Linked DNA regions of Homo sapiens. The protein of the gene in region 1 purifies or fractionates together with the protein of each later gene. This does not show direct contact. Each region holds a gene or a part of one and is shown on either strand. Other genes may lie near its edges.

Region 1 (4,069 bases):
ATTCTATCTTCTGTCATATGAATGTTGAGCAAAGCTTAGGCCAACATGAATTGTTTGTGAAGTGTGGTTGATGGTGCTTTGTTTTTTTCTGACTACTTCTATGGAAGGCCAGTGAAGAAGCAAAGGAAGACATGAAAATTGACGCTCATTCTTCTTCCTATTGTTCCCTGACATCCAGCAAATTGTGAATTTGAAAAATGATGGCCAGTTTTCAGAAGTGCTGACAAATTCATATTGGTATGCAAAAGCTCATCACCCATTAAGGTTTGTTGTTGAATCAACAGTACTCAGCATATTAAAACAGTACATCAGAACTCATGCCAACAGTCTTTATGATGGGATTAAGGTGGACAAGATCTCCTAAGATCTGTGAATGGGATTAAGGTGGACAAGATCTCCTAAGATCTGAAAAGAAACCTTAATACGCTCATATGGTTGGAGTGTTAAGTGAACCTCTGATTTTGTCAGGGTTTTTCTACGTGTAGGCGTGAATAGGGGGCACCCCTTCAAAACTGTACAAAGAAGACGACTGTTTTCCATTTCCATTTAAACATTTTTAGCCACTTCATTTCTATTTATTGAACAGGTCAAATTTGTCTTGTTATTTGTGAGTACAGTACATTTAAAAAACATCCTTATCGGTTATTTTTTTTTCAGTCGGAGTTTGACGTATAAATTGTTTATGCTTTTGGTGTAATCTCTTAATAAACTGGTTCTTCAAAAATCATCCTATAAAGTGAGTTTTCATGAAGTTAACGGGATTTTGGTGTGATGTGTTTTGCAAATACTTATTACCGAGACCAGGTAGATCGTCACCTCGGCTCCCGGGCAGAGTTCGCGTGCGTCCGCACCGGATTCCCCGCGGCGGCAAGGCGAAGCCAGGGTAAGGGCGGTGGGGACGGCGCCCCGGGGCTGCCCTGCGGTCCCCACTGCCTGCTCTGCGTTGCCCCGTAGCCTCCTCGGGCAACGGCGGTGTCCTCGTCAGACCCGGGAGGTTCCGCAAACGCCGGAGGGGTCAGAGAAGCTGGGGGACCTTGGGCACCGGGTGGAACGGGCGGGGCGGCTGTCCTTGTGCTCGGGCAGCGAGGGCGCCGGCGAGAAGCGCGGCTGCAGCTGAGCGCTCCGCATCCCTCCTGCCGTTGCTCCTGCTTCCGCTACCAGGGACAAGGTCGCCTCTCGGTCCGTCGGCGTGTTTTCTGCACCTGCGCACTGGGCAAGCCTTGGGCTTCCGGAGCCAAAAGGCCCCGGAAGTGGTCGGCCGCTTGCGACGCTCCGGAAGTGACGTGCTTTCCCGAGCCGGTGAGTGCGGGAGCGGGGAGCGGGGAGCGTGGGCCTGGGGGGTGGTCGCGGCCCGGGCGCAAGGAGGGGCCTCGGCTTGGGCCGCGGGGTACCGGGGCGCTGGGAGCGGGAGAGGCCCCGGCCTAGGAGCTGAGAGGCCTGGAGGGCTGCCGGGCTGCGAACCCCGGCGGGACCGAGCGCTGCGGCCCTGGAGTAGCGAGCGCTCGGGCGGTGGGGAGCGGCGCCTTGCTCCCCGGTCCTGCCCCACTCTCTCCGCAGAACCGCGTTTTGGGGTCAGAAGTCTTGTCAGCCACCCCGGTGGTGCTCTGTCACGGGATGGGTGCCGTGTGTGAGTTCCGAGTCAAGTTGTTAGGAATTTGCCTTGATCCAGCGCTCTAAGTATTAAACATTTTAAAGTGATTATTGGCAGTATACAGTTGCACAAAACAACATAAATATATACACATTTGGATGATAAAACAACAATAAAGTTTTGTATTGTAAACGCGCCTCAGGGAGACGCATTTCCAGATAATTCACTGTCCGTGGCTGGCTTCTGCCCAGTGAGAGCGGGTTACCCGTTCTATTCCCATTTACGTTCTCGTAGCTGTGGATACCGAGGAACGGCGTTCACACAGACCTGTAGGTGGGAATTAGAGGGGTTGTTGGGCAGTGTCACTAGAGAAATACCTTTCTTTTGTAAAGGGGAGGACCCATTATAAAAGGGGGACGGGAAAGGAGAATTCAAATTGTTTTAAACGCAGGTTCGTCCTCAGGCAGTTCTGTTTTAGCAGAGAGAACGTAGCGAAACTTGGGCAGAAAATGGATTCCTTTGAAATTATCCTGGCCTTAGTCCCTTGGGAAGTCTGTGTAGGCGAACCTCAGTGAGAAGATTCCTGCCGTAAAATGCAGGTGTCAGCAGCATGCCAGGGAGGCCAGAGGATACTATGTGACTTTGGGCAAGTGACTGAACCTCTGTGAGTCTCAGCCTCCACTGCTTTAGATGGGCATAAAAAATGTAAAGTCAAGAATCAGGTTTCCGCTGGGCGCGGTGGCTCACGCCTGTAATCCCAGAACTTTGGGAGGCCAAGGCGGGCAGATCACGAGGTCAGGAGTTAAAGACCAGCCTGGCCAACATGGTGAAACCCCATCTCTACTAAAAATACAAAAAAGTAGCCGGGCGTGGTGGCAGGCGCCTGTAATCCCAGCTACTGGGGAGGCTGAGGCAGGAGAATCGCTTGAACCTGGGAGGTGGAGGTTGCAGTGAGCCGAGACCGCACCACTCTGCTCCAGCCTAGGCAACAGAGCGAGACTCTGTCTCAAAAACATACCCAAAAAAAAAAAATCAGGTTTCATGCTCACAGGAGGATTTGAGGAGGGTTTATAAAGGGACCGTTTGCAAAGGCAGAGTGCAGGTTAATGACAGTTGGTCCTTTAGCCTGGAACTGGTGGCAGTGGAGTTTCTACTCCTGGACTCCAAAGGATCAGGGAAGGCAGCAGTGATCGGGACAGGGAGAAGAGTCACTGGGGAGGGCTTCTTGGACTGGAGGTGTGAGCCTCAGTCTGAGTGGGCAGGGAGGTCCATGTCCCGGCCTCCTGCTCCTGCCTCCAGTCTCTGGTAGAGGGCCAGGTCCCAGTAGGTTTTCCTATGGGGCAAGCTCAGGCTCCTGACACACAGCACAGGGCAGGGTGGAAAGCTGGTCTGGAAAAGCAAATGGAAGATAGCTCGGCATGCAGTATTACCCCTCGCAGGGTATTATCGTTAGGAATACATTTAAAAGTGGATATATTGGTTGGGTGTGGTGGCTCGCGCCTGTAATCCCAGCACTTTGGGGGGCCGAGGCAGGTGGATTTCCTGAAGTCGGGAGTTCAAGACCAGCCTGGCCAACACGGTGAAACCCCGTCTCTATTAAAAATACAAAAATGAGCTGGGTGTGGTGGTGGGTGCATGTAATCCCAGGTACTCGGGAGGCTGAGGCGAGTGGATCACTTGAACCCATGAGGCGGAGGTTACAGTGAGCCAAGATCCCACCATTGCTCTCCAACCTGGGCTACAAGAGTGAAACTCTGCCTCAAATAAAAAAGAAAAAAAATGGCCAGGGCGTGGTGGCTGATGCTTGTAATCCCAGCAATTTGGGAGGCTGAGGTGGGCGGATCACGAGATCAGGAGTTCAAGACCAGCCTGGCCAACATGGTGAAACCCTGTCTCTACTAAAAATACAAAAATTAGCTGGGCGTGGTGGCATGCAGCTGTAATCCCAGCTACTCGGGAGGTTGAGGCAGGAGAATCCCTTGAACCCGGGAGGCAGAGGTTGCAGTGAGCTGAGATCATGCCACTGCACTCCAGCCTGGGCGACAGAGCGAGACTGTCTCCAAAAAAAATAAAAATAAAAAATAAAAAATAAAATATATACACATACATATATATACATGTATATGTATGTACACAAATTAGCTGAGCGTGGTGATGGGTGCCTGTAATCCCAGCTTCTTGGAACGCTGAAGCACAAGAATTGCTTGAACCCAGGAGGCGAAGGTTGCAGTGAGGTGAGATCATGCTATTGCACTCCAGCCTGGGAGTGAGACAGAGTGAGACTCTTGTCTCAAAAAAAAACCTTTCTGTGATGAGGGCAGTGTTCTAATATGTGCTGTCCCATATGTACCCACTCGTGACATGTGGCTGTGTGCACTTAGATGTTACCTCAGGGACTGAGTTTTTACATTTCAGTTAATTTTAGCCAAATGGCCACATTTGGCCAGTGGGGACTGTGCTGGACAGGTCAAGGACAGC
Region 2 (3,500 bases), on another chromosome or scaffold:
AGGTTTTCATAGTTCTGTTCCTGAGGAGTCTCTCTTAGGTTGCCATGTACTTCCCAAAGGCTTCACCCTTACCAATGAGTCCTGCGGCACTTTGCAGCTGGTAAGAGGAGAAAGTTTGGTTGTTATTTTTAATTAAACTGCTATGCTAGGGGTCATGGTCAAGGACACAAAGTTCATAGAAATATTTCTCACTTCTACAGCTGGAAAATCACCTTACACAAAATCACTGAGCCACAGTACTTATGTTCAAATTTGCAGCCTCTTGTTCTAGATGTCCCATATGACTTCAAGCTTTTTTTCCTATATTTAATTAGAAACCTACCTTGTCCTTAGTGAATCCTCTGTTCACAGACTGTTTCCCCAAGGCATCTGTCTGAAATATATAAGACAAGATATTAATCTACACTTTACTCATAAGAAAAAAGGTAACTAAGCTAGGTGAAGTACCCAATCTCATTAAATAATTTTGCATGTGAGAACTCACTTCTCTCCACTTTTTATAATAATTGTTCTAAAATTTTAACACTATTTTAAAAATTATTGTTGGCTGGGCGCAGTGGCTCACACCTGTAATCCCAGCACTTTGGGAAGCCGAGGCGAGAGAATCATAAGGTCAGGAGTTCGAGACCAGCCTGGCCAACATGGTGAAACCCCGTCTCTACTAAAAATACAAAAAATTAGCTGGGCATAGTGGCGGGTGCCTGTGATCCCAGATACTTGGGAGGCTGAGGCAGGAGAACCGCTTGAACCCAGGAGGCGGAGGATGCAGTGAGCCGAGATCACGCCACTGCACTCTAGCCCGGGCAACAGAGTGAGACTCTGTCTCATAAAATAAAATAAATAAATAAAAAGAAATAAAAATAAAAATTATTGTTTATAAGAAAACAACTTTCTTCTAAGATTCTGAGATTCAGAGATAAGATTTCTCTCTCAGTAAACTATCATCTACTAGTACTGAGAGTCCATTCTCCACCTGCCACTGTGGATATGAGGGATTTCTTCCCAGAATTAGGCCTGCTTGGGATTACTGTGCTCTGTCCTGACCTATTCCACACTGAGCCATGGGAGAGGTAAGAAATGGAAAGATGTGTTATCCAAGGATACTGCTTATCTCTGACAACACTTTGATGGTAGGCATCCTCAGCAGACTAGAGTCATTTTGAGTGTTCAATCTTAATGTTTCCTCTATCAAATTAGACACCCTTAAAAAAAGGCCACCAACAACTGAAAGTGATTATTTTGTCTCGTAGCCATTATCTCTCATAAAGGTCATAGCTAGTAAATCCTGTTTTGAGTAGTTTCTGGTAGTAGGGATGGGTTGTTCTGAGTCTTCCACTCAAGGCTGTGCTTCTCAGAAGTACATTCGACACCTGGGATTCTGAGGCTGAAAAACACTTTCTGCATAAAACCTTGCCTTTAGTCACTTTGTGCTTTAATTAATCCACACTTTTCATAAATGATGGTCATAGAACCTGTACCCACAAATTAGAGAAAAGCCTGTTGAACACCCTTTAGTCTTTTTGGTCACGCACCTATACACTGACAACATCCCAGTGTAGCCGTTCCTTCATATGTAAACCATCTAAAAAGGAGTTAATTTCATTTTCTTTCTTTCTTTTTTTTTTTTTTTGAGACAGGGTCTAGCTCTGTTGCCTAGGCTGGAGTGCAGTGGCACAATGTCGGCTCACTGCAACCTCTGCCTCCCAGGTTCAAGTGATTCTCCCACCTCAGTCTCCCGAGTAGCTGGGTCTACAGGCTTGTGCCACCATGCCTGGCTAATTTTTTGTATTTTTAGTAGAGATGGGGTTTCACCATGTTGGCCAGGCTGGTCTTGACTTCTGGCCTCAAGTGATCTGCCCGCTTCGGCCTCCCAAAGTGTTGGGATTACAGGCATGAGCCACTGTGCCTGATGAGAATTTCATTTTCATACCACTCATTCTCAGGTGTACCATGAAAACGAAACAAAAACAAAACAAAACCTCCACTTGCACAGCTGCTTTCACCTTTCAGTCATGAAGCCTCATGTATCGGTTTTTACACAATGTCTCTCCAATCTATTATTTGTATCCATTTTCACTTATAGAAATAAAAAATTTAAGCCCTAAGTATAAGCGTATTGCATTTTATCAAATCTAAGACATCATATCTTAAGATGCACCATTATTTTATGCATCAGAAAATGATGCCAATTAAATAGCACAATATTTTCCTGTCATATCAATTATAAGACAATTTTAGTGATGTTAAAATGAGAAAAATAAGAGTGAGCTTTAGATTTGATGAAATAAGGTAATTAAAGCAGTTGAAACTACATGTCAAAAATCAGAAGCATTTAATAAGAACTTTAAATGGGTATTTTACTTCCCTACTATGGATGCTTTGGAAATCTGTGCAGATAATTTTATGGTTATCATAATAGTTTATTGGATATTGATATCTACATTATGGGAGGGGTGTCAAATGGGTGAGTTCTACATAATAAAAAAAATTTCCCTCATCCTGTACAACTTTTCAATGTCTAGCTAGACATTCTTGCAGCTGAAAATACCTATAATATTTCAATATTTATAATTACTTGGGCCTAGAACCTTTTTTTTTTAAACACTGCTTTAATACTAAAATTTCCAGAAATGCAACTACTATATAACTTGAAAGATTCCACATTGTGGAATCATAGGTCACTGATAACAACACTGCTCATGGTTTTGGAGGTTTTTTTTTTTTTGGAGACAGAGTCTCACTCTGTCGCCCACGCTGGAGTGCAGTGGCACAATCTCCGCTCACTGCAACCTCCGCCTCCCGGGTTCAAGCAATTCTCCTGCCTCAGCCTCCTGAGTAGCTGGGATTACAGGCATGCGCCACCATGCCTGGCTAATTTTTCTTTTGCATTTTAGTAGAGACGGGGTTTCACCGTGTTGCCCAGGCTGGTCTCGAACTCCTGACCTCAAGTGATCTGCCACCTTGGCCTCCCAAAGTACTAGGATTACATGTGTGAGCCACTGCACCCGGTGGTTTTAGAGTTTTTATAATTATCAACATAACACCCATTTGCCAGTCAGTATTTGCTGCTTACATGTTCAAGGTTATTTCAGAAATGGGTGGAAGCACCTCATGACTACATTAGGTCTCACAGTGTAGTCGTGCCCTAATATTTACATGCTAAAATATGTATTTTGTTAAAAAATACTTTTCTTTATATTATGGTTAGGGCATTATATTGATTTTCCCACCTGAGGTTATACATACAGGTAGGTTATATTTTTACATACCTATTGTTTTATTTCAGGGTAGAAAAGGGAGAATTTTTAAAAAATGTATTATAAAAGGGGGATGTTGAGTCCCATGTGGTGGGGAACCAATAACTCAAAGTAGTAAAGACAAGACTGTGGGAATGGAAAATATGTGTTAGCCGTTAGCCTTCCTCTATCTAGCTAGATACAGAAGATAGCAAGTGAATATTTACCTAAGAGCTGCCACAATTTAAATTAAATCTTTACATA

The links. Proteins that work in one complex are often made in the same cells at the same time.
Region 2: the proteins of MTG2 (region 1) and ATPAF1 purify together in Homo sapiens (affinity purification with mass spectrometry; one large-scale study listed by BioGRID and IntAct). This does not show direct contact.

The regions. Positions count from the first base shown.
Region 1 is NC_000020.11:62,181,759-62,185,827, forward strand, and holds the start of MTG2 (mitochondrial ribosome-associated GTPase 2), read left to right. Parts: upstream 1-1,269; 5' UTR 1,270-1,299; intron 1,300-4,069. UniProt on the Homo sapiens protein: Plays a role in the regulation of the mitochondrial ribosome assembly and of translational activity. Displays GTPase activity. Involved in the ribosome maturation process.
Region 2 is NC_000001.11:46,658,365-46,661,864, forward strand, and holds part of ATPAF1 (ATP synthase mitochondrial F1 complex assembly factor 1), read right to left. Parts: intron 374-3,500; coding exon 323-373; intron 1-322. UniProt on the Homo sapiens protein: Has a complex stabilizing activity in the assembly of the mitochondrial F1-F0 complex.